Homo sapiens: one gene and its partners. The protein of the gene in region 5 purifies or fractionates together with the protein of the main gene of each other region. This does not show direct contact. Each region holds a gene or a part of one and is shown on either strand. Other genes may lie near its edges. The genes, in order: AICDA, KPNB1, CHD4, CHD8, KPNA5, NUP153 and SKP2.

The links.
Region 1: the proteins of KPNA5 (region 5) and AICDA purify together in Homo sapiens (pull-down; one study listed by IntAct). This does not show direct contact.
Region 2: the proteins of KPNA5 (region 5) and KPNB1 purify together in Homo sapiens (affinity purification with mass spectrometry; 2 studies listed by BioGRID and IntAct, with this or other methods). This does not show direct contact.
Region 3: the proteins of KPNA5 (region 5) and CHD4 purify together in Homo sapiens (affinity purification with mass spectrometry; 2 studies listed by BioGRID and IntAct, with this or other methods). This does not show direct contact.
Region 4: the proteins of KPNA5 (region 5) and CHD8 purify together in Homo sapiens (affinity purification with mass spectrometry; 3 studies listed by BioGRID and IntAct, with this or other methods). This does not show direct contact.
Region 6: the proteins of KPNA5 (region 5) and NUP153 purify together in Homo sapiens (affinity purification with mass spectrometry; one large-scale study listed by BioGRID and IntAct). This does not show direct contact.
Region 7: the proteins of KPNA5 (region 5) and SKP2 purify together in Homo sapiens (pull-down; one study listed by IntAct). This does not show direct contact.

The regions. Positions count from the first base shown.
Region 1 is NC_000012.12:8,602,860-8,606,359, forward strand, and holds part of AICDA (single-stranded DNA cytosine deaminase), read right to left. Parts: intron 2,627-3,500; coding exon 2,356-2,626; intron 2,064-2,355; coding exon 1,948-2,063; intron 1,479-1,947; coding exon 1,425-1,478; 3' UTR 1-1,424. UniProt on the Homo sapiens protein: Single-stranded DNA-specific cytidine deaminase. Involved in somatic hypermutation (SHM), gene conversion, and class-switch recombination (CSR) in B-lymphocytes by deaminating C to U during transcription of Ig-variable (V) and Ig-switch (S) region DNA.
Region 2 is NC_000017.11:47,673,919-47,677,418, forward strand, and holds part of KPNB1 (importin subunit beta-1), read left to right. Parts: intron 1-719; coding exon 720-864; intron 865-2,490; coding exon 2,491-2,573; intron 2,574-3,101; coding exon 3,102-3,209; intron 3,210-3,500.
Region 3 is NC_000012.12:6,593,880-6,597,379, forward strand, and holds part of CHD4 (chromodomain-helicase-DNA-binding protein 4), read right to left. Parts: intron 2,259-3,500; coding exon 2,127-2,258; intron 1,552-2,126; coding exon 1,455-1,551; intron 772-1,454; coding exon 580-771; intron 1-579. UniProt on the Homo sapiens protein: ATP-dependent chromatin-remodeling factor that binds and distorts nucleosomal DNA. Acts as a component of the histone deacetylase NuRD complex which participates in the remodeling of chromatin.
Region 4 is NC_000014.9:21,393,624-21,397,123, forward strand, and holds part of CHD8 (chromodomain-helicase-DNA-binding protein 8), read right to left. Parts: intron 2,270-3,500; coding exon 2,194-2,269; intron 1,730-2,193; coding exon 1,675-1,729; intron 1,497-1,674; coding exon 1,289-1,496; intron 863-1,288; coding exon 654-862; intron 573-653; coding exon 1-572. UniProt on the Homo sapiens protein: ATP-dependent chromatin-remodeling factor, it slides nucleosomes along DNA; nucleosome sliding requires ATP. Acts as a transcription repressor by remodeling chromatin structure and recruiting histone H1 to target genes.
Region 5 is NC_000006.12:116,687,711-116,691,210, reverse strand, and holds part of KPNA5 (importin subunit alpha-6), read right to left. Parts: intron 1,892-3,500; coding exon 1,758-1,891; intron 1-1,757. UniProt on the Homo sapiens protein: Functions in nuclear protein import as an adapter protein for nuclear receptor KPNB1. Binds specifically and directly to substrates containing either a simple or bipartite NLS motif.
Region 6 is NC_000006.12:17,637,426-17,640,925, forward strand, and holds part of NUP153 (nuclear pore complex protein Nup153), read right to left. Parts: intron 2,640-3,500; coding exon 2,514-2,639; intron 346-2,513; coding exon 1-345. UniProt on the Homo sapiens protein: Component of the nuclear pore complex (NPC), a complex required for the trafficking across the nuclear envelope. Functions as a scaffolding element in the nuclear phase of the NPC essential for normal nucleocytoplasmic transport of proteins and mRNAs.
Region 7 is NC_000005.10:36,162,111-36,165,610, reverse strand, and holds part of SKP2 (S-phase kinase-associated protein 2), read right to left. Parts: intron 1,967-3,500; coding exon 1,855-1,966; intron 1-1,854. UniProt on the Homo sapiens protein: Substrate recognition component of a SCF (SKP1-CUL1-F-box protein) E3 ubiquitin-protein ligase complex which mediates the ubiquitination and subsequent proteasomal degradation of target proteins involved in cell cycle progression, signal transduction and transcription.

The DNA of each region.
Region 1 (3,500 bases), on a different chromosome or scaffold from region 5:
TGCTCTTGTCGCCCAGGCTGGAGTGCAACGGCACGATCTCAGCTTACTGCAACCTCCACCTCCTGGGTTCAAGCGATTCTCCTGCCTCAGCCTCCCAAGTAGCTGGGATTACAGGTGCCTGCTACCACGCCTGGCTAATTTTTGCATTTTGAGTACAGACGGGGTTTTGCCATGTTGGCCAGGCTGGTCTCAAACTCCTGACCACAGGTGATCCGCCCGGCTCGGCCTCCCAAAGTGCTGGGATTACAGGCGTGAGCCACCACGCCCGGCCCTCTCTCTTTCTTTTTTTTTTTTTTTTTTTTGAGAGACAGGATCTTGTTATGTTGCCCAGGCTGGCCTTGAACACCTGTGTTCAAGCCATCCTCCCTCCTCAACCTCCCAAGCAGCTAGAACTATGAGCGTGTGCCACGGTTCGCAGCTTTATCATTCTGTTTTGTCACAACTCTCTTATATAGTTAATATACCTTTGGGAGAAGCATCACACACATACAAAATGTAGCAAACCTTGACCTGATTGGCATTTCTGAGATGAAGAGACCCACGAGAGCCAATAGATTTTCCTCTCCCCAACATTCAAGCAACTTCCTTCCAATTGTTTGCTAATTATGATATGTGAAGTTTGTGGGTGTTTCTAAATTAGGGACTTCCTTAAAAGAGTTTGCGTTTCCAGAAGATTTGCTACTTCAGACATCAACCCATTATTAGGGTGTCTTGTTCACAGTCCTCCTGCCCATTTTAAGATCCTTTATTAAAGTAGCTTGAAGGTGACCATGCATGGTCTATACCTCCATCCCCACCCATAACAATCTTCTTTTGTACAAACATAAAAACATGCTTCTGCTGATTAAAACATACAGCGCATGATTGGATATTAATGCTTTGGAGAGATGGTTTGGGGTCACAATCACCCAGATACTCTCATTAGGAGGTCCTATAGATCATGGCCTGATGGAAGAGTTTGTGTTACTTGAAAGTAAACGTCAAGGGAAAAGAATAGAAAAATCTATCACTAACACCACTGTTAACTCAAATGAATCAAATAATAAAGGATGTTGATATAAAAACATTTGATCCTCTCACCATGCTTTTTAGGATCTACCTTCTGCTCTCATCCTACCTAAAAGTCATAGAAAAACGTTGACACTTTAGGATGCTCCCAGGTCCTGCAGTTCTGTTATTCCCAGTAGGGGACAATGTTGCATTCAAAACTGCACCAATTGCAGCACGTCCCTGGCCAGACCTGTGTTCCTTCTCTATTTTCAAGACATAGATCTTTTTAAAGAGTCGTATATAAATATTTTTTCTGTAAACTCTAAGAAAGTGAGAGTTGAAGAATAAAAACAGAGAAGACTTGAAGGACTGTTTTTTATCCACTGTCTTCAGCAGAGATATTTCATCGTGTGTGACATTCCTGGAAGTTGCTATCAAAGTCCCAAAGTACGAAATGCGTCTCGTAAGTCATCAACCTCATACAGGGGCTGTAGAGAAAGAGAGAAGCAAATTGAGTGAATGGCTTCAAAACGAGGTTGGGGGTCGGTGGGGCCGGAGAGTCTTCTAAACTGAGTGGATGGCTTTGTAACATGTTGGAAGAAAGTAAATTGGGAAAGAGTTTTTTTGGGTTTTTTGTTTGTTTGTTTAAAAAAAAAAAAAAAAAAAAAAAAAAAGGAGAAAAGAATTCTGACCAGGAAGGAAACGCAACCCTGGGGAGAGACAGAAATTTAAAGATGTGAAACAACAAAAGAAAGAAAAGGGAGGGAAAAGGAACCTTAGCAGAGGGCTCTGAATGGTGAAACAGCAGAAGAAAAAGCTGATGTGGAGGAGAAATAAAGTTTTCATCAGATGAAAACTGAGAGTGATTGAACAATAAGAAAATATAAGAAATATACGAAACTCCAAAAAAGACTGTAGAGAAAGAAAGAAAATTTAAAAAGCGAGGAAGCCCCTTACCAAAAGGATGCGCCGAAGCTGTCTGGAGAGACGAACTGAATTTTCATGCAGCCCTTCCCAGGCTTTGAAAGTTCTTTCGTGGTTTTCTACAAAAGTATTCCAGCAGTAAAAATAATCTTCAAAAAAAAAAAAAGGAAAAAAAGGCGGGGATATGGGGGTAGAAGACAGTTCAGGTTCCAAATCGAGGGGAAAGAAGCAACCCTGGCCCCATTTTCTCATTTCCTCGGGGCCTTGTCTCTGAGCCATTCACTCTTTTCTCTGCTTCTAATCTTTAATTTCGGCTCCAGAGGTGAACCAGAATCCCCGCCCACTTCTTCCCCTCGAGCTTCCCCACTAACTCATTCATTCCGCATCGCAATCCCGAATGCGGGCTGCTGCACTGCGCCTGCGCGGAAGGCCCTTTCGCACCTTTGAAGGTCATGATGGCTATTTGCACCCCGGCGCGGTGCAGCCGCCGCAGCCCCTCGGGCTCAGCCTTGCGGTCCTCACAGAAGTAGAGGCGCGCGGTGAAGATCCTCAGACTGAGGTTGGGGTTCCCTCGCAGAAAGTCGGCCACATGTCGGGCACAGTCGTAGCAGGGGCTCCAGGAGGTGAACCAGGTGACGCGGTAGCAGCGGCCAGGGTCTAGGTCCCAGTCCGAGATGTAGCGGAGGAAGAGCAATTCCACGTGGCAGCCGTTCTGGAGAGACAGAGAGGACCACGCTAAAATTCACTGACTTTTATTGCGGCTCTGGTAGCCTTAGTCATTGTCTCCTGCAATGATCTTTGGGGATGCTTGCAGCTATTGTCCTTGTGTTACAGAGAGGCTAAGCAACTTGCTCAAAAGAGCACACCAGTAGGTAGAGCTGAACCCTTGGCAGCACTAGTCCTGCAGAGTGAAGGAAGGCTATGGGTTTTTGTGGAATGAGGAAGACGAAGTGCGCTGAGTTGGGAGGAAGCAGCATCACACTACCTCACCGAAGATTTAATTTGTGTTTATGAAGTTGCTTTTTGCACCTTTTGAGAAGGAAAATGGCTAGAAGTGCCTGTTGATGTAACATTGTGGAAATATACCTGGACCACTAGGTGGAGGCAGGACAGTTTATGAGGACCATTTGGGAGGATCTGAAAAGGGGAAATAGATTTTGGTAAAGCAGACAGATGGGTATTGTAAGAGAAGTAATAGGCACTGCCATGAGAAGTAAATGAAAGTGCTTGATAAAATCAAAGCCTTCTGAAATAGAATGTGTCATGTCACCGAATAGGAAGGAGATTGGGATGTATTCAATACAAATGTAGGCAAAGAAAATTGCATGGTAATATAACCATCAAACAACGAGCCAGACGATGACCTTCCACCCCACGGATGCTTCCCTGAGATTCCACCAAGCCCAGACGTCACAGCGTGTTAGGAGAGAGGAGATACCCGTGGGCAGAAGTTTATGTAAACCCATCTGGATTTTGGTGAAGAAGTCTCTTGGAAATGTAATTCTCTCGGGTAGCCGAAAGATCAATTTAATTAATCATCAGCCGAGGCTTCTCTGAGTTTTCTGGGGATCACCATGTTGAATGTA
Region 2 (3,500 bases), on a different chromosome or scaffold from region 5:
TGGTTCCTTCCAGATGTATAGCTCATTTGTGTTGGCAGCTTGAATGGTTTTGGTTTTTTTATTTTGAAAACCAAAAAACTCTTGGTTTTTCATTAGGTTATTCAAGCCTAGCTCAGTCAGATTTGGTTCCCAGCTATAGTTCACTTGGCTAAAAATAAAGCCTTGAATTTGTACCGTCATCTTTTGAAACATTTGCTGTTTGACCTAATGTCAGTGACATTAGTTGAAACAAACGAGTGAGGAAGGAATGTTTGATGGGAGAAGTCAGGTTGGTTTGATTTTATCAAGTTTATTTCTAGGTCATCTGTAAATAGGTAGGATATAGGAAGGGTTGCTTTTTGTTTGTTTTATGAATAAGAGCTCTAAGGTGATAGGGCCTTCTCTAAAGCTGAAGTAATTTAACTATCATTCCAGTAAGACTGGACTATGGCGGCTACCAGCAGGGATTTGTCAGACAGTAAGACAAATGAAATTGAGAGGACATGACCTTCTGCACAACGGAGGATCAGCTCACGTTTGTTCTGAATTGAGAAACAGGAGAAATGTTAAAATGTATTGCTGATGATTGGTACTGTCAATGTTTTTGTGTATAAAATACATTTGGCATTCCCAAAATTAAAAAATATCAAGGGACTTAATTGATTTTAAAAAGAAAAGGTATAGTGTTCTGATTGGGAGATTTGGAATCAACTGATCTTGAACTCTTACTCATTTCACAGAATGTTCTTCGGAAAGTGCAACATCAAGATGCTTTGCAGATCTCTGATGTGGTTATGGCCTCCCTGTTAAGGATGTTCCAAAGCACAGCTGGGTCTGGGGGAGTACAAGAGGATGCCCTGATGGCAGTTAGCACACTGGTGGAAGGTCGGTGAGAAATACTGTCTGGTCAGGGAATGTCTTTGGAATGTAGGCATTTCAGTGGCCTTAAATAATTGTCACCCAGGCTGGAGTGCAGTGGCACGATCTTGGCGCACTGCAGCCTTGAAATCGTGGGCTCACATGATCCTTCCACTTCAGTGCCCCCACAGTAGCTGGGACTAACAGATGCACACCACCATGCCCAGCTAATTTTTATATTTTTGGTAGAGATGGAGTTTCGCCATGTTGCCCAGACTGGTCTTGAACTCCTGAGTCAAGTGATCCTCCTGCCTCAGCCTCCCAGAGTGCTAGGATTATAGATGTGAGCCACTGGGCCCAGCTTAATTTTGTTTGTGTGTGAAGATAGGGTCTCACTATATTGCTCAGGCTGGTCTCAAACTCCTGGGCCTCCTTGTCAGAGCATTAAAGAATTTTTGACTATAGAAAGCATAGTCCTTTTACTGGGGCATGAGTCACTTCAAAGTTAGATTGAACTTAAGTGCACACCACTTAAATTTGTATAACTGCCTTGTCAGTCCATTTAAATGGGGAGCCAGTTTGCAACGGAGATTGGCAGAGGTGTTGTTTTTTTTTTGTTTTTTTTTTTTGTTTGTTTTTTTTTTGAGACTTGTTCTGTTGCCCAGGATGGAGTGCAGTGGCACCATCTTGGCTCACCACAGCCTCCACCTCCCAGGTTCAAGCAATTCTCCTGCCTCAGCCTTCTGAGTAGCTGGGATTATAGGCATGAGCCACTGTGCCCTGCTAAAAGTTTCTATTTTCTTTCCTGGTACTTGTCATCACCTGGTTTGGTTTGTAGTGCTTTGGACTAAGATTGACACATCATGGTGCCTGGTATGGGATGAAATGAAACATTGAGCGAGTTCTAGGAATTGATTTTCTGATTTTTACATGTCTGACTGCAAAATTGGTTTGGGGAAGCCATATCTGACTTAAGACTCTTTGAAGGGGCATTACGAAGCACTTTAGGAATCTGATATGCCTTTTCAGGGGTGGCCTGTAAGTACATTGCTAAGGCCATTTACCTGAGGACCACTCTCCTGAGGACTAGACCTATTTTTGGCATAAACAGCCTATGTCCAACTGGTCTGTCAACATGTGACCACTCCTCTGAAAGGGCAAAGAAGTTAATTTTGGCTCCTGGAGTGGCTGATTTGGATCTGAAGCCCAGTGCTGCTTTTCCTGGCTGTGGCTTGTTTAGCCCTTGATGGAATTGCCTAAGGACCCTGTTTTGAAGCTGGCTTGCAGAAAGGACATGCTATTATCAGATGAGGAGGTGGACAAGAGTCAGTATTGCTGGTTCAGCCCATTTAAAATTAACCTTGACATTCCTTGAGGGTCATACCACTTGGTTGTATTAGTCAGAGTAAAGCCCTATTCTGTGGACAGTGGGCATTGTCTCTGTGGCGTATGAATTAGGGCCCTTCCAGCAGTAATAAATTTGGCTTATGCAAGCCTTTAATGTCTTCATGATGGAATCGGTAACTAAAGCACATTTCACCCAACCTGTTGAGTGGAGCGAGTACATTTTGGGAGAGGTAGGATGGGTTATTTCTGCCTGCCTCTGTGTTAACCCGTGGTGCTGTCATTGGCTAATAGCTTATTTCATTACAGTGTTGGGTGGTGAATTCCTCAAGTACATGGAGGCCTTTAAACCCTTCCTGGGCATTGGATTAAAAAATTATGCTGAATACCAGGTAGGATGTGCTTTTCAAAATAGTATGTTCCCATTTATATCTGACAGTCACTGTAGTGCACGCAAAACCAGGTTCTTATAGCTTAAGTAGTTTTTCCTGATACATTGTCCTAAAAGGCAAGCTACTTTATTCATTGCCTGAACGTTTGAACTGGAAGTAGTCCATGAAAAACAGGATATTAGATGTACCAGATAACGGTGGACAAGATATTAGATGTAACAGATAATGGTGGACAAGATGACTGTTTATTTGCTTAGACAGTACTAATGCAGGAGCAGCTATAAAGTTGAGCTATTAGCACCCTGGAGAGCAAGGCTTTTTTTTTTTTTTTTTTTTTAACTTTATCAGTGATCTCTCTCGGATAGTCTTTGTTCCCTGCCTGCCATGTTGGTTGTTGAAAAATTAATCTCGGCAGAGGGATTTAACTCTAGGTTCAAGTGATAAAAGCTCAGCAGCTAGTTAAAAATAATATCTTGCCCCAGCAGGCAGCCTTTTCTGTTAGAAGATTATTTCCTTGATTCTTGGCAGGTTTGTTTGGCAGCTGTGGGCTTAGTGGGAGACTTGTGCCGTGCCCTGCAATCCAACATCATACCTTTCTGTGACGAGGTGATGCAGCTGCTTCTGGAAAATTTGGGGGTGAGTATCTACACACAATCTAATTAACCAGTCTTCTTTGAAGAAAACAACAGTTGGAAAGATAGTTAAATATCGACCAGGCTGGGCGCAGTGGCCTGTAATCCCAGCATTTTGGGAGGCCGAGGCAGGCCAGGAGTTCGAGACCAACCTGGACAACATGGTGAAACCCCGTCTGTACTGTAGATACAAAAAAAATTAGCCGGGCGTGATGGCAGGCGCTTGTAATCCCAGCTACTCGGAAGGCTGAGGCAGGATAATCGCTTGTACCCGGGAGGTGGACGTTGCAGTGAG
Region 3 (3,500 bases), on a different chromosome or scaffold from region 5:
GGCTGGAGTGCAATGGCGCAATCTCAGCTCACTGCAACCTCCACCTCCCGGGTTCAAGCGATTCTCCTGCCTCAGCCTCCCAAGTAGCTGGGATTACAGGCGTGCACCACCACATCCGGCTAATTTTGTATTTTTAGTAGAGACGGGGTTTCGCCATGTTGGTCAGGCTGGTCTCGAACTCCTGACCTCAGGTGATCCACCAACCTCGGGCTTCCAAAGTGCTGGGATTACAGGTATGAGCCACTGCGTCCAGCCAAGCCTTTCCATACTAATTCTACTCATAATTCTACTTCCCTCAACACACAATCATTCCCCTAGAACTGATACTCTATGGATCCACTGCTAATCCTACCCAGGGCTCCATGCCCTCAAATCTTCCGCTGTGTACATGTGTTTATCCACTATCACATTTATCTACTATCTACTAAACACATGTGTACATGTGTTTATCTATTATCCACAGTGTTCTTGAAGGTCAGAGACCAATTTTTTTATTCCCTTATCTCTCTACTCAGTGTAAGTTAAGGCTTCAAACACAAAACACCCACACAAAAAACTATCCACCCCAGATTTCCTTACCTCCTTGTAAAGGGAATACAGGAAGACTGCTGTCTGTACAGTTTTCCCAAGGCCCATCTCATCAGCCAAGATGGTGTCAGTGCCCTGAGCCCAGGAGAAGCGCAACCAATTCAGGCCCTCCATTTGATAGGGGTGCAGGGTTCCACCTGTAGCATCCAGGTACTCTGGCTGTCGCTCATACTTCACTGTTGGCTGAAGGATGAAACAGAGAAGTCAAGAGCTGGCAAGGAACTCCCCTCCTCCCCTAATAGAGCAGCTGCTTCCTCCTCACTAGTCTTCACGGATCCTCTTGGGGAAGAGCTCCGGAAAATTCGGAGGGAAGAGATCCCCTATGATTACTGCAATTTCATGTTCAGTTTAGGGTCCTCCAGGAAACAGGGCTTAACCAGACCTGATTTTGATCCTACAGATCACTGAGGAAAAGCACGTCACAGACTCCCTACCAATACAATAATTCTACTAGTCAGGATCCACCAGGTAAATAATCGTTATGTCCCTCTTAGATTCATCTTTTTAACTTTAATCACCCTCAAATTACACTGTACAAACAAAACCCAGAGGAACTGAGCCTGAATTAAGCCAGATTCCTATGTAAGTGCATAAAAGCTAGGCTATGTGGCCCCTCCCCCCAGACAACACTTCTTCAATCATTCAAAATATACCTCCTTTTTTTTTTTCTGATGACAAAAGAAGAAAGTAATCCTAGTGCTTTCTGATATATAGAGATGTGGAGAAGTGGGGAAGCCGACTTTGTGAAGTAATCTCAGCTACAAAGTTACTATCTGCATTTCATTACTTAAGAGTACCATCATTAGACTGCAGCAAAGATACATTGTCCTACCCAACAAACTACAGTCCCTTCCACCCCCACTCACATCAACTGTTGGCGTTTCTGGAGGCCTCTCCAACTTCCGAAGCTTCACCTTCTTGAGCTTCTTGCCTGGTCGGCCTTCCTCACCCCTCATTAACTCCCTAAAGAAGAAAGACATCACACAGCTGCCCAAAATCCTTTTCTATAGAAGAAACAACTTGGCCAGGCACAGTGGCTCACACCTGTAATCCCAGCATTTTGGGAGGCCAGCACTTTGGGAGGCTGAGACGGGCGGATCACCTGAGGTCAGGAGATCGAGACCAGCCTGGTCAACATGGTGAAACCCCGTCTCTACTAAAAATACAAAAATTAGCTGGGCATGGTGGCAGACGCCTGTAATCTCAGCTACTCGGGAGACTGAGGCAGGAGAATTGCTTGAACCCAGGAGGCGGAGGCTGCAGCGAGCCAAGATCGCACCATTGCACTCCAGCCTGGGGGACAAGAGCAAGACTTCGTCTCAAAAAAAAAAAAAAAAAAAATCAGCTAGGTGTGGTGGCGTATGCAAATAATCCCAGCTACTCAGGAGGCTAAGGCAGGAGAATCGTTTGAACCAGGAAGTCGGAGGTTGCAGTGAGTCAAGATCACGCCACTGCACTACAGCTTGGTGACAGAGCAAGACTCCATCTCAAAAAAAAAAAAAAAGAAACAACTCTATGCCTCACCCAAAATCACTCACCTGTGATTCCAATAGCTCTGCTTGAACAGGTCGTAATCCTGGATCTCCACATCCTCACTCTCCCAAGAAGCCTGATCGTAAGGTAAGTCCCGCCACTTGATCAAGTAGTGGACGTGGCCCTTCTTGTCCACACTGCAAGTCCAGGAGAGAAAACCCTCAGAGCCAGAAAAGGCAACCCTCCTCACTTCCTCTCAAAAACTGGCAATACCGTTTGTTTCACACCAGACCTCTAGGTATGCCACAGATCACACGTTTTCAGAGCCTCTACTGTACCAGTCTCTGACCAAAAATTATCTCTAATTTATACTTTCCTAGAGCTCAAACACCAGAATTCAGTCAGTTAATAATTAACATAGAGTGTTGGCCGGGTGCAGTGGCTCACGCCTGTAATCCCAGCACTTTGGGAAGCTGAGGCAGGCAGATCGCTTGAGGCCAGGAGCTCAAGACCAGCCAGGCCAACATGGCGAAACCCGTCTCTACTAAAAAAAAAAAAAAAAATTAGCCAGGCATCAGGCCGGGCGCGGTGGCTCACGCCTATAATCCCAGCACTTTGGGAGGCCAAGGCAGGCGGATCACCTGAGGTCGGGAGTTCAAGACCAGTCTGGCCAGCATGGAGAAACCCCGTCTCTACTAAAAATGCAAAAATTAGCCGGGCATGGTGGCAGGTGCCTGTAATCCCAGCTACTCGGGAAGCTGAAGCAGGAGAATTGCTTGAACCCGGGCGGCGGAGGTTGCAGCAAGCTGAGATTGCGCCACTGCACTCCAGCCTGGGCGACAGAACGAGACTCCATTTCAAAAAAAAAAATTAGGCAGGCGTGGTGGCACACGCCTGTAATCCCAGCTACTCTGGAGGCTGAGGCAGAGAATCACTTGAGCCTGAGAGGCGGAGGTTGCAGTGAGCTTAGATCATACCACTGCACTCCAGGCTGGGCCACAGAGCAAGACTCTGTCTCAAAAAATATAATAAATAAATAAATAAATAGGCCGAGTGCGGCGGCTCACGCCTGTAATCCCAGCACTTTGGAAGGAGGAGGTGAGCGGATCACAAGGTCAGGCGATCAAGACCATCCTGGCTAACACAGTGAAATCCCGTCTCTACTAAAAATACAAAAAAAAAAAAATTAGCCAGGCATGGTGGCGATGGCCTGTAGTCCCAGCTACTCGGGAGGCTGAGGCAGGAAAATGGCGTGAACCCAGGAGGCAGAGCTTGCAGTGAGCCAAGATCACGCCACTGCACTCCAGCCTGGGTGACAAGTCTGTCTCAAAAAAAAACAATAATAATAAAATAAATAAATAAAGATAATAACATGAAGTGTCAGGCGCAGTAGCTCACGCCTGTAATCCTAACACTTTGGGAAGCTGAAGCAGACAGAT
Region 4 (3,500 bases), on a different chromosome or scaffold from region 5:
ACTCCGGGAAACCAGAGGGGTAGTATCAGAGGGGGATACTCGCATCTCATAGTCTTGTGGGGTTGGTCGGCTCCTGGCCACCACCTCGTGCTCTAGCTTTAAAGTCAGACTCTCCAGACTGGGGACCTGGGTAGCTGTCTCCTCGGGTGACTTTTCAACAGGAGCATCTGGGCGCAGGGGCAGTGGTGAGGCAGTGCGTGAGGTATACTGCTGGTGCAGCAGTGGAGTAGAGCAGCGTGACAAGGATGGAGCTGGTGCTCCTGCTTGATGGTTCTGCATATAATTCATACGGGCAGCCAGAAAAGAGAAGTCTGGGTCCTGCATGATGTTGCAGTCTGTTTGGCTCACCCCATGGCGGGCTGCCCCTCTTAGAAGCTCCCCATCATGCCGAACAGGCTCCCACCATTTGGGCAATTCAGGACCAGGAGGCTGACACAATGCCAGCCGATCTTCCAAAAGGGGGTGGCATAAAACTTGTTCCCGTAAGCGCCGAAGCAATTCTATACGGTAGAGAGTCCGTGAGGCTCTCTCCTCAGTGATGGGCTCAATGAACAGGTTAGGGTCGGGGGGTTCTGCAAGAGACAGGAGTAGAAGAAATTAACAGAGTTGCTTCTGTTGGCATCCATCCTCACCCACTCTGCAATCTTGCTTACCATCTCCAGCTGCTGGGGGAAGGCGGCATACTTGGCGGCACATGGCCACAAAGCCATGGAAGTACTTGGTAAGGCTTTCATCTGTCTTTTTGTCTAGTCGAGCAAAAGTGCGGAAGCGATCCCAATGGAACTGCATGGTGTCAGGGTCATATTCCACACCAAACGTAGACACCACTCGATAAAAATCAGTTTGTTCACGCCTTGTCCATCTACAAAAGGAAAAGTAGGGCAACAATAATCAGAAGAACACATCAGAAGAACACAAGAAAACTGGTTATTTTTTAATGTGTTTTAGAATATCTGAAAACACAAAAATTGAAAGTAGACGCAAAAAAAAAAAAAAAAAAAGGCCCAGAAGAGGTAGTGAGAGGTACTCTGTAATGAGTAAGAATTACAGAGCCAAGGGGGAAAAGACACAGACAAATATCAATGAAAATGTCTACACAGGAGACCTACCTGAGAGTTAATGATTACTGCATGCAAGTGAGGTTTTAATTTCTACAGGTTTAACTACCCAAGGCAGAAAAGATGGTCCCTCTGTAGAGAATTCCAAATAAATCCTTCCTGAGATGGCTTTCAGTATAGGGACCATAACTGAAAACACAGATCAGCACAAGTTCCCAGCTATATTTTACCGTTGTTGTTTCTCCCGCCGTGCAATTTCTTTCAGCTTGAAGGCTGCTTCACAACGCCGCCTTCGCCGGTCCCCACGTTCTGCAGCCTCTATCTTCATTTGTTCTCTCTTGTAGCTGCGCTGATACGCTGTTACTAGACGCCGAAGCCTAGCTGTTAGGGCAGAGCCCGGAGGCCAGAATAAATGGCCTGGCTGTTGGGTCACCTGGGCTGTGGAAAACAAAGTAGAATGAATAGGAAGTATAGCAAGGGTAGTAGAGGCAATACTAGTATTTTAACCCACCCAAAGGCAAAGCTCTTAGAAATCCCAGGATAGGACAGAATTCAGTGAATAATTCCCCAACCCACCACCCCACACAGAATTATACTAGTTGACCTAGAAGTTTACCTTCATCTCCATCAATCACTGAGATCTCCTCATCCATCATCATCAAGGGATCACCCTAGAGAAGGAGATCCACCCAATAGGATGGAGCGGGGAGGGAAAGGGGGGGAAGTTGGCACTCTGAAATCACTTTCTTGTGTGTGTCCTTCTATGGCACCAAGGGATCAAGAAAAACTTCTAAAGAAATATATCCCCACAAAAACTTGGAAACAATCAACTAAAAGAACAAGAAAGTAGAACCTGAAAGGTCAGTTCCTATTAACGACTCAAAGATAATAGAAGTCAGGAATTTATTAGTCAAATAATATCTTTCAGTGTCCAGCTCCTCCATAAAGTTATCCCTGATCTCCCCCTACTGGCATTACAGTCCTTTCCATTAATATTTTCTATTCTCAAATGGTATAATTCATTTTCCATTTTGTATTATAAATTAACCAATATATTTCAAGATTCAGAGAATGGTTGAAGACTTAAAACTATTTAGTAATAGAGAAAAGTGAGACTCAAATGAGAATTCCTTACCTCATCATCTTGGTCCTTTGGGGGACCTTGGAGTGGTTTATATTCAGGATCTTCACAATCTTTATCAAAGTCAACCCTAAAATTATGGAGAGGCACAAGAAAATGTTAATAATGTATCTTCTATCACTAAGGGAACCTAGGATGAAGACCTAGCCACACATATATCCAGCATGAAATAATCTTTATTAGTATTATTTTTGAGACAGGTCTCACTCTGTCGCCCAGGCTGGAGTGTCATGGCCCTATCACAGCTCACCGTAGCCTCAACCTCCTGGACTCAAGCGATCCTCCTCCCTCAGCCTCCTGAGTAGCTGGGACTACAGGTGTGTGCCACCGCACCCGGCTAATTTTCATATTTTTTTAGAAGTGGGGTTTTGCCATATTGCCCAGGCTCATCTCAAATTCCTGGGCTCAAATAATTCACACGCCTTGGCATCCCAAAATGCTGGGATTACAGGAGTGAGCCACCATGCCTGGCCTTATTTTTATTTTTATATATATATTCTTTGACACAGAGTCTCACTCTGTAGGCCAGGCTGGATTCCAGTGGCATGATCTCAGCTCACTGCAACCTGTGCCTCCCGGGTTCAAGCGATTCTCCTGCCTCAGCCTCCTGAGTAGCTGGGATCTACACATACCCACCACCATGCCAGGCTAATTTTTGTATTGTTAGTAGAGATGGGGTTTCACCATGTTGCTCAGGTTGGTCTCAAACTCTTGGGCTCAAGTGATCCCATCCTGGCCTAGTCTTTTATTTATTTATTTATTTATTTATTTTTTGAGATGGAGTCTTGTTCCATCACCTGGAGTGCAGCAGTGCCATCTCGGCTCACTGCAACCTCCGCCTCCTGGGTTCAAGTGTTTCTCCTGCCTCAGCCTCCCAAGTAGCTGGGATTACAGGCATGCGCCACCACTCCTGGCTAATTTTTTTTGTATTTTTAGTACAGACGGGGTTTCACCTTATTTGCCATGCTGGTCTCGAACTGATGACCTTGTGATCCACCCACTGTGGCCTCCCAAAGGGCTGGGATTACAGGCATGAGCCACAGTGCCTGGCCTAGTATTTAATTTCGTGTTTACAGGAATGGCAGGCCAGGTGCAAAACTTTGGGTCAGTCTGGTATAGCATCCAATGGAATACAAATAATTATAAGAAATTGACAATGTACCATTCGTAATTGCTTGAATTTGAAACACTTTGATCAACACAGTTCCTTTTTCTTGACTTTTATTATGTAATTCTTCCTCCTACCCAACTATTTACTTTTTATTATTTCATTTGTATGGTTCACGCTTTTTTGTTTTTAT
Region 5 (3,500 bases):
TGTCTCCAGGACAGAGTGCAGTGGCACAATCTCGGCTCACTGCAACCTCCACCTCCTGGGTTCAAGCGATCCTCCTGCCTAAACCTCCTGAGTAGCTGGGATTATAGGCGTGCGCCACCATGCTCGGCTAATTTTTTTATTTTTAGTAGAGACGGGGTTTCACCATGTTGGTCAGGCTGGTCTCAAACTCCTGACCTCAGGTGACCCGCCCACCTAGGCCTCCCAAAGTGCTGGGATTATAGGCATAAGCCACTGAGCCCGACAATAATACATATTTTAAAACAACACAGTATAACAACTCAACTACACAGCATTTACACTGTATTAGATATTATAAGTAATCTGGAGATGACTCAAAATATACAAGAGGATGTGTGCAGGTAATATGCAAATACCATGCCATTTTACATAAAGGACCTGAGCATCAGTGAATTTTGATATCTGCAGAGGATCCTGGAACCAAGGGATAACTCTACATTTCCTAAATCAAAATTTGAGGAAAACAAAATCTGCTTATATTCTTTTTGACATCTAAATAAATATCGTTCTTCTTTTTTTTTTTTTTTTTGAGATGGAGTCTTACTCTGTCGCCCAGGCTGGAGTGCAGTGGCATCAACTCGGCTCACTGCAAACTCTGCCTCCCGAATTCACGCCATTCTCCTGCCTCAGCCTCCTGAGTAGCTGGGACAACAGGCGCCAGCCACCACGCATGTCTAATTTTTTTGAGATGGGGTTTCACCTTGTTAGCCAGGATGGTCTCAATCTCCTGACCTCGTGATCCGCCCGCCTCAGCCTCCCAAAGTGCTGGGATTAAAGGGGTGAGCCAGGGCTCCCAGCCTGTTCTTCTTTAATATGTAAACAATCTTCCTTCTAATCATTTATTCAACACAATTTTTTTAGTACCTACTATAATGTATGAAGGATTGTGTTAGACGCTGTAGATAGGGAGATGAGAAATCATTATCATATTTCTGAAATAGGCCTTGCCTATTACATGCCTGTAATCCTAGCACTTTGAGAGACAGAGGCAGGAATATTGCTTGAGGCGAGGAGTTCAATACCAGCCTGGGCAACATAGCAGGACCCCATCTCTACTTACAGAATACAATAGAATAGAATACAATAGAAGAGAATAGGCCTTTTCTACTTTCTTCACTGCTAGTCCTTTTCATACATCAGTTTTAATTCACATGTGTGAGAACCACATTATTTTACTTACTTACAAATACTTCTACATTTAAGTACATCTTGGAATAAAAAATGTTGAGATGTACTCTCTTAAACAATTTTATATTCTTTATGTCACATATGAAAAGTATAAACAGAGATCCAGCTAATAAGACAATGGGGGAACAGTATGAATAGCATGGGAAGATGACAATAATTTACTTACGGGCAAGAATTATGAAAACTACAAAGCAGCAAATAATATATAATTAATGTTTCTTTAAGGGGCAAATTTTACAATGACAAATGGAAGTGATCTAAATAGATGCAAGAGGAAAAATTTCCTAGCAGTAGGGTAAAAATATAATTAACACAACAGGTTTATCAATAAAACAGAAAATCCATTTCTCCCAGTGACTAAAGTAGCACAGAGTTCTGTTTCACAAATTTGCAATTATGATGCCTGGAGTCTAATAAATAATAGATTTAGCTATATTCAATTTCTTAAAACATTTCCATTTAAAATTATCCAATAATTAGCAAATAATTAAAATTTTAAAAAACAAAATTAAATAGCTAAAAACACCTACCTGTTCTTCTCTTTTTTGTTTTCTAAGCTGTATTCCTTCTTCTTCTCTTCGTCTACGCATCTCTTGAGGATTTAGGGCTTTATTCTTATAACTTTTCATTCTATAGTTATCTTTCCCTGGACTAGCCATGGCATCTTAAAGGAAGGAGAAAAGAAAACAGACACTGATAACTCACTCTCTCAAAACAACATGAGACACTTAATCTAGCAACTAAATTCAGGCTCACTGATTAACAGGTCAACAAAACCCATTCTGAAAATTATGTACAAAGAATACATTCCCTTAATTCCACATCAAGATTAGAGCAAAATGACCACATATTTTAGAAATAATATCTTAAACAAATAATTTTGGTCTAAACAAAGACAAAGTTTACCCTATCTTATTGATTCTAAGATGCAACAACCTTTCCTGTCTCCCTAGCCCCCACAGTGTTTTAACCTTTCTGAAACATAATTACTGTCAGGAAATAATCATGAATTATTTGGGTTAAAAAAAAAGTCTTCTAAATTACAGTTTCTGGCTAGATCAAGAAATAACCAGCTTTGAAGTATCTTATTTTTAATGAAATATGATATTAGGCTCCAGTAAGCACATCTCAAATATTTATTGGGGTCTGGCTTCTTTCACTTACTGAAGGCATTGCCTTAAGAGCTATGGCCACAAGGGTCAGGACTTGAATTATGACTACAATATCAGTTTTTAGTACTCCAGTATAATTAGTTCTTTTGAAATACTAAAATACATGTATACTTTATTTTTAAGTAGTTTTATTGCAAATGTATTTTAAAACATTAACATTTATATACCTATTTTATAAATACATAAAATATATGCAAATATATTTCATATTTGAATATATGTGCTAGTTTTACTTTTAGAAAGTGAATTATAAACTTTAACAATGTAACAGTATTGATATCTTGATATTATCTTATAGGAATATTAAAATACTGATATTATAACCTATTCTGGACTTACACATCACACACACACAAAATCTGCCTAAAGCAGGGTGCCAACTTCAGTTTAACAGTAGATAGTGAGTACCCAGTATGTTATTCTGTTAAATTCAGAGGACATATCCATGTCCAACCAGAGACAATGTTGTGACCAATTAGCTTATGAAGTAAACACAAGAGAAGGAGAGGCTGGCATCTGTCTGCCATCCCTGATATTGAAGAGACAGACTAATGAATTGGCAAATTTTATTGTAAGGAGTACACTAAAATACATGCTTTAAATCTTGAGAGAGCAGTGAAGATATGGCAACTAATTGTGCCTTAGGGACTTCTGAAAGCTTCATGGGTATCCTATTTTAAAGGAAAAACAGGAAAGAGAAATGGGGAGAATCAAGCATTTCAAGCAGAAGGAATATATGCAAAGGCAAAGTTTTTGAAGAAGCCTTGCATAACCAAGAACAGTAAGAGACTAAGTGTGTCCAAAATGAGGATGCATGGCAGAACATAAAGCTATAAAGGTAGGTTAGAGGACATATGGTTCCTATAATGCAGCTGTGAAATTTGGACTTGATCCTAAGGAATAGAATTAAACAAATTAAGGAAAAGGTTGTTTTTACATAGTTCAGAGAGAGAGATAGGAAAGATGCTGAAGGCGTGAACTAAACAAGTTACTACAATGAAAACATAGAAGACAAGTTGGATTCTAGAAATATTTCTGAAATTGATTCAGTAAAAATTAGAGGCCAAATGAATGTAACAGATATCTGGTGAGGAAGAAAAG
Region 6 (3,500 bases), about 99 Mb from region 5:
AGGTATCACAATCCCAAGTGCCTATCACTGGTTTAAATTTGTCTCCAAAGCCTGTCCCTGATGCAGAAAGAGTTGTTTTGCCACTTTTATTTGGTGTTTCAATTCCAGTCTGTTTAGCAGTATCTCTGGGTGACAATTTTGCTGCTTGACAGGCTATGCATTTGTTGTCTGTAACTTTGTTCTGGAGTAGACATGTATCACACTGCCATGATGACCCAGCTTTTAAACTCTCCCCAAACCCAATTCCACTAGAAGAAAAGCTACTTATTGCTGGTCTTGTATAAACTACTGGGCTTGTTGCGGTGGGCTGAGCAGCAACAGAATCTATCTTCGGCGATGCGAAACCTACAATGAACGAAGGAGAGAGTGCAACGTTAGAGAAGCTTTATAAATCAAAGCATTAATTTGATTATTATTACTGAGAAGACGTTTACCTCACTGCACACTTACTACAATCCAAGATGAACTACTTAAGAATTGTTTTTCACTTAAGTAATCATATTTATCAATTACCTAATAAGTTACACTTAAACCATTTAAAATTCTACAAAAGATGTTTTGTTTACAGGATATCACCTTCTCCTTCAAGGAATTTCTAGTTTGATGCTTTCAATGGTACTAATTTACTGATATGTATTATTGCCATCCACATTTTGCTATATTCTGTCTCTCTACAAACACACAATACTCGCAGTCCTCTTTCTCCTTCATCCATTTCTTCTTTTAAGTGTTCCATTGGCTACACCAAATGGCTTCAATGTCATCTTTGAATTTTGTCCAGTCATAACCTACTGCTGTGGTATTCTCTACCTTCAGTAAAATCAGCTGAGCAAGTCCTTCTGTTACCAAAACTGCTGTCATTGAGTTCATTCACTCAAGCTGTATTTTACTCATGAGAATGACTTTTGTAATTGTTTACTTAGGACCAGTTAACTTTTGTCTTACACACAACACCACCATCTGTGATCTGTTTCTCCAGCCTTACCCGCCAAAGAAAAAGAAATTAAAAGGAGAGAAGATGTAGAAGGTTATTAGAGGTTTTCTAGTTCCACAAAATAATCCAGCCTAGAGCTATTTTTAGCTTAAGGACAAAATACCACATGCTTGAGTTATTCCCAGTGGGCAACGTGTTATTTTGCTTATGATTAATTTAAATCACTAAGATTGGCAAGATATTAACAGTAACCATCTCAAGGCATTACAGATTTCTTTTTCTTCTACTTTTTCAGATTTTCCTAATTTCAGTCAAATGAAGATTCTCCCCAAACATTTCCTATTTAAGAAGTAAAAAGGGAGCAGGGGGAGGTTGGCATCATGAATGCAAAGTGTAACCCCAGATACACAAGACAGACTATACACATTTGAGGCTTGCCTACTACTTGGTTAATTCCAGCACAAGCACTCTGGAGTTCTACCATAACTGCATGGAACTGTCCAAGCTACTGGACTCCTGTAGGCAGTATACTTATCTATAAAATGAGAGAGCTGGACCAGAAAAATTGAATCCTCCTAAATCCTGTTGTAAAAGCCAACCTTATTTTTTAAGAAAACCTATCTTATTACACATGGACACATCTGGTGGGTACGTTTAAATTCTTTCTGAGCTATTAGATTATCTCACAGTTTTACATTCTTTTATTCTTTTTTTCTTTTCCTTTCTTTTTTTTTTAAAGACAGAGTCTTGCTCTGTCGCCCAGGCTGGAGTGCAGTGGTTCGATCTCGGTTCACTGCAACCTCCACCTCCCAGGTTCAAGCAATTCTCCTGCCTCAGCCTCCCGAGTAGCTGGAACTACAGGTGCATGCCAGGACGCCCAGCTAATTTTTTCTCTTTTTAATAGAGATGGGGTTTCGCCATGTTGGCCAGGCTGGTCTTCAACTCCTGGCCTCAAGTGATCTGCCCGTCTTGGCCTCCCAAAGTGCTGGGATTACAAGGGTGAGCCACCGCGCCTGGCAAGTTTTACATTCTTATACTATGTATCATAAATGGAATTATGAACATCCTGTTTTCAAACAAAAAATTATTCTTATCTGAGAACTATTTATCCCCTTTCTAATTATTACCTACTAGCTTTCAAATCTTGCTTCAATTCAAGTGAGTACTGCTCCCTATGTATATGTTACAATTCAGCAGATGCTTTCCACTTGGCCTTGTTCCATATTTACCAAACTGGGGAATAATTCAAGAAGGCAGTTCAGTGCTCTCATAAGAGAAAGACATGTCTATGTGTATCATCAGGTTTACTTACTCTTATTCCTCACTGACCTACCTCTATTAATGGAGAATCCATTTCCTCCTCCTACACTTGCCTATTAGAAATTTCATTTTAGTATAGAGTCCTTTGGCTTGTAAGATATTTCCAGCAAAAGAATTACACCTAACTACATCTCTATTCAAAAGTAAATCTCCTACCAAACTAGTCAGAAATTTTTAAAAGCCTAAAGTATAATACAAAATGACATTAAATTGAGATCATGAGTTTGTAATCAAAAGGCTTATCTTTTAATTATCTTACCAGGGCTTTTCAGAATATCTAGAACACTTCCTTCTTTCAGGATTTCTGCAGGTCTAAAAGGACCCTCACAATCTTCAGGTGGTGTCTTCTTACAATTTGTACTGTTCACTGTAGTGACATGATGAGCTGTAATTTTTTTAAATTTAATAACATTATGCCAAATAAAACACTGGACTCTCAAATGCATTTTTAAAAATCTTTCAAAACCATCTTTTGGATTAATTTCTAAAAGTTCATGAAAAAAGTCACTTTAATTCAATAAACAAATGACTTTACAGGGATAATTTGCCATTACAAGGAGATAAAAACACTATTCCCATACTATATAACTTCCCCCACCAATAAAAAGGCAAAAAAATATAAACTATAATTATCGTCCAATTAACTGACTGATAATCAAAACAATCAAACTAAAAAACTGGAGAGGATATGGCAACTAGGGCAAGCCCATCCACTGCATGAAATATCTGATTACACAACAATTTACAAAACTAATCAAAAAAAGTAATTTTCAACTGAGCAATTATTTCATTTTTAGAAATTCACACTATTAATATAATTGAAAATATCCTTCAGTTATAATATTGAAAACCTATATGGTAAAATATTAAATAAGGGTATATGGTTACATAAATTACATAACAGTGACATGATGAAATACTTATGCAGCCACAGAAATCATTCTTTTTCAAAACAGAGAGTGAGTGTCTTGTTGTCAGCAAGGCCGGAGTACAGTGGTGCAATCATAGCTTAATGCATCCTCAAACTCCTGGGCTTAAGCAATCCTCCCACCTTAGCCTCTCAAGTAGCCAGGAACACAGGCGCATGCCACCACATCTAGCTCATTTTTTTTTTTACTTTTTTGTAGACATGGGGTCTCACTATGGCTGGCCAGACTGGTCTTAAACTCCTGGCCTCAGGTGATCCTCCCACATCGGCCTCCCAAAGCACTGGCATTACTGGCATGAGTCATCATGCCTGGCCCAC
Region 7 (3,500 bases), on a different chromosome or scaffold from region 5:
TAAGATATCCTTAAGAGAGTGGCACACTTTTGTATCTTTCTTGCCCAGACAGAAATCCATTTTGGCCTCCAAGGTATTGGTATTGACACCAGATCAGCACTGCTCTGGTTGTCTTGAATCTCATGCTTGATGTTTCCTCTTGCAAGAAGGCAAACTATAGCTTAACCAGCATTCAATAACAACAACCTGGGAGAAGTTTTGGAACAATTCATTTTCTTTCCAAATAATATACATTTTTTAGGAAGATGAACACCTCACAGAAAAATGAATTTGGGAGCTACCTGAACCCTAAGCCAAGCATAACTAGATATGGTATGATGGTTAAGACCGTGGAGTTAGCCAAACTTTAGATTCCTGCCTTTCCACTTATCTCTCAACCTACTATTCCTGACCCTGCAGTTTCCTCACCTCTGAAGCTGAGATGACACAAACACCATCACTTAAAATCATATGGAGGATTAAATTGCAAACACTGCACCTGTCACAAAGCAAGTGCTTAATAAATGTCAGTAATTACTTTTATGACAACTGAGATGAAGTTTAACAGACTCTAAGGGAGATGTAGGTCAAAGAATACAAAGCCACAGATATGCAGGATGAACACATCCCAAGATATAGTATACAACAGGAGAACTAGAGTCGATAATACTGTATTGTAGTCAGAATGTTTGCTAAAAGAGTAAATTTTAGGTGCTTTTGCCACAAAAAATAGGTAACTATGTGAGATAATGAATATGTTAATGATAGCAGCCATTTCACATACTTATAACAAAATATCATGCTGTATACCTTAAATATATACAATAAAATTTTAAAATGGGATTAACAGACTCTGCAAGAAGAGGATAAATGCATAGCTGGCAGAAAAAGAAAACCAAAGTGGGGTTGAGTGCGGTGAGGGTAAGTGAAACTTGCCTGCCACTTGCACCAGCATTCCAGGTGTGCAACCCTCTCTGCGGCTCTTCTAAGCAAACAACCCACACCTGTAAATAGCAGCACGCCCTTGAAGGCAAGAGGCTCCTGCTATCTCACACAGGGAGTTCTAAGTATGTGGAGGGAGAAGCCAGACGGATGGCCTTTAAACACAAAGCAAAGAATGACCAGGAGGTAGGATAGGGATGAGAAGGCATGAAGATAGTAAAAAGTTCCAGTTGATAAACATAGCCTTTTTCTTGCTCCAGGCCTGTTATTGCCTTTCCAGCTCACCAAGTCTTTCCACATGCAACTCACCTTCCACACTTGAAAAGTGTTGCCAAAAAAAGAGCACAACCCCACCAATGGCTACTCTGTGTGGAACATGTCTGTGAGTCAGGCATTACACCAGCATCTTCACATTTCATCCTCATAACCAGTGGTTTCCTCCTCATAACCATTATCCCCATTTACATATGGGGAGACTGAGGCTCAGCAGTGTCAACTAACTCACTCAGGTCATGCAGAGCGTAAGCAGCAGAGGCTGGGTGTGCACTCGGGTCTAACACCAAGCCTGTGTTCCCTCTCCCTATTGTGCTCACTGCTCAGCCCAGCGGCGTGAGGAACCGCTGTCTGCATGCACCTCTGTAACTCTCTCCGCACTTAAAGCACACCGCCTGGCCTACAGTCAGCATCCCATAAACACATGCTGCACTGAATACAGGGCAAAGAGGTTTCCAGACATTGGTAAGTTTATCCCTCCCAGGAAATTCCTCTTCCACTGTGAAATGAGGACACTGATTAATAAAAATATGAAGATACCTAGTTTGCTTTGCGCTGCTCTATTTTTCTTGGTTTTTAGTTTCATCAGACCAAAACGAATAAATAACCTTCCTCTCCTCTTCCTCCCCTACGTTTGCCAAAGGGGTGAAAAATACTTACGCTAGGCGATACCACCTCTTACAAACACCAGAGACCTTTAGCAGCTCAGGGAGGCACAGACAGGAAAAGATTCCCAAGAGCAGCTCATCCGGAAGGGAGTCCCATGAAACACCTTTGGAGGGAAAACAAGTGTTTGCCATCACCATTCTTTCACCCTATCAAGTCTACTGAGTCTTTTCAAACACATAAAGAATATACAACATTTAGCTTAAATGAGGAATTTAGCACAAATTAAATTACTCATCCTCACAATTATTTTTGTTTGAAAAATCATTTCTGTTGAACAGAAAAATAATTGTGGTGATGAGTAATTTAATTCGTGTTAAATTCCCCATTCCATCATCTATGTACCCTGAAGTGACCACCACACTCTCTCAGCAAATCAAAAAGAGAAACCCAGAACACTTTTCCTATTCTTCCCTTCAGCTCTAGCCAGCCAATCGGAGGCTGTGGCATGAAGAGTGGTACAGAGCAAGTCCCACCCTCTCAAATGTCATTCAATGACATTGTCAATTCATTGACATCAATAAGATATTGTGGTGCTTCTGGGTGCAAAGGAAGGCCTTGTTTCTCTCTGATGTGGACTCAGTAGTGACCTTATTTAAAAGGCAAATAAATCTTCTTCCCTTTCTGCTATGGTTGGCTGTGTCCCCACCCAAATCTCATCTTGAATTGTAGTTCCCATAATCCCCATGTGTTGCGGGAGGGACCCAGTGGGAGGTAATCAAATCATGGGGACGGTTACCTGGTGATAACCGCCCCTGTAATTTGATGCTGTTCTGGTGATAAGTGAGTTCCCACAAGATCTTATGGTTTTACAAGTGGCTTCCCCGACCCCTTTGCTCTGCACTTGATGCCGCCATGTGGAGAAGGACGTTTGCTTCCCCTTCCACCAAGCTTGTACGTTTCCTGAGGCCTCCCCAGCCAGGCTGAACTGTGAGTCAATTAAACCTCTTTCCTTTATGAATTACCCAGTCTTGGGTATGTCTTTATTAACAACATGAGAACAGACTAATATGCTTTCTTTCAGGTTTACAAAAGGCACAGTTTACCTAAAAGAGCAATACAAAAGGGTATTGTCATTTCTTAATTCAACAAATATTTACTGAGCTCCTACTATGGTGCCAGGTATCATTTTAGGTGTTGGGAAGGAGTAGTAAATCAGACCCAAAACACTACCTTCGTGGGACTTCATTCCAGTAATGCGGAACAGATAATCACACATCAAAAAATAAGTACATTATATGATATAGTAAAATTGATCTGTGCTGTGCAGAAAAATTAAACAGGGCAAGGGAGAGAACAGAGAGTTCAGAGCAGATGTTATTAAGTTTGAACATGGTGGTCAGGGAAGGCCATACTGAGATGACGATCACTAAGCAAAGGCTTGAACAAAGTGAGGGAGTGAGCCCTGTGAGTATCTGGTGTACGTGTTCTAGATCCAAGGAACAGCATGTGTGTTTGAGGCATAGCAAGGAGGCCAGTGTAGAGCGCAGAGGTAGGTGGGTAGAAAAATCAGAGAGCAGCCAGGTCATGCAGGCTTCCTAGGTCATGATAAAGCCTTTGGCTTTGACGCTGAATTCTATGAGGCACCACTAGAAGATTCTGAGCACAGGAATGACAGGCCCTCACGTAAGTTCAAAAAG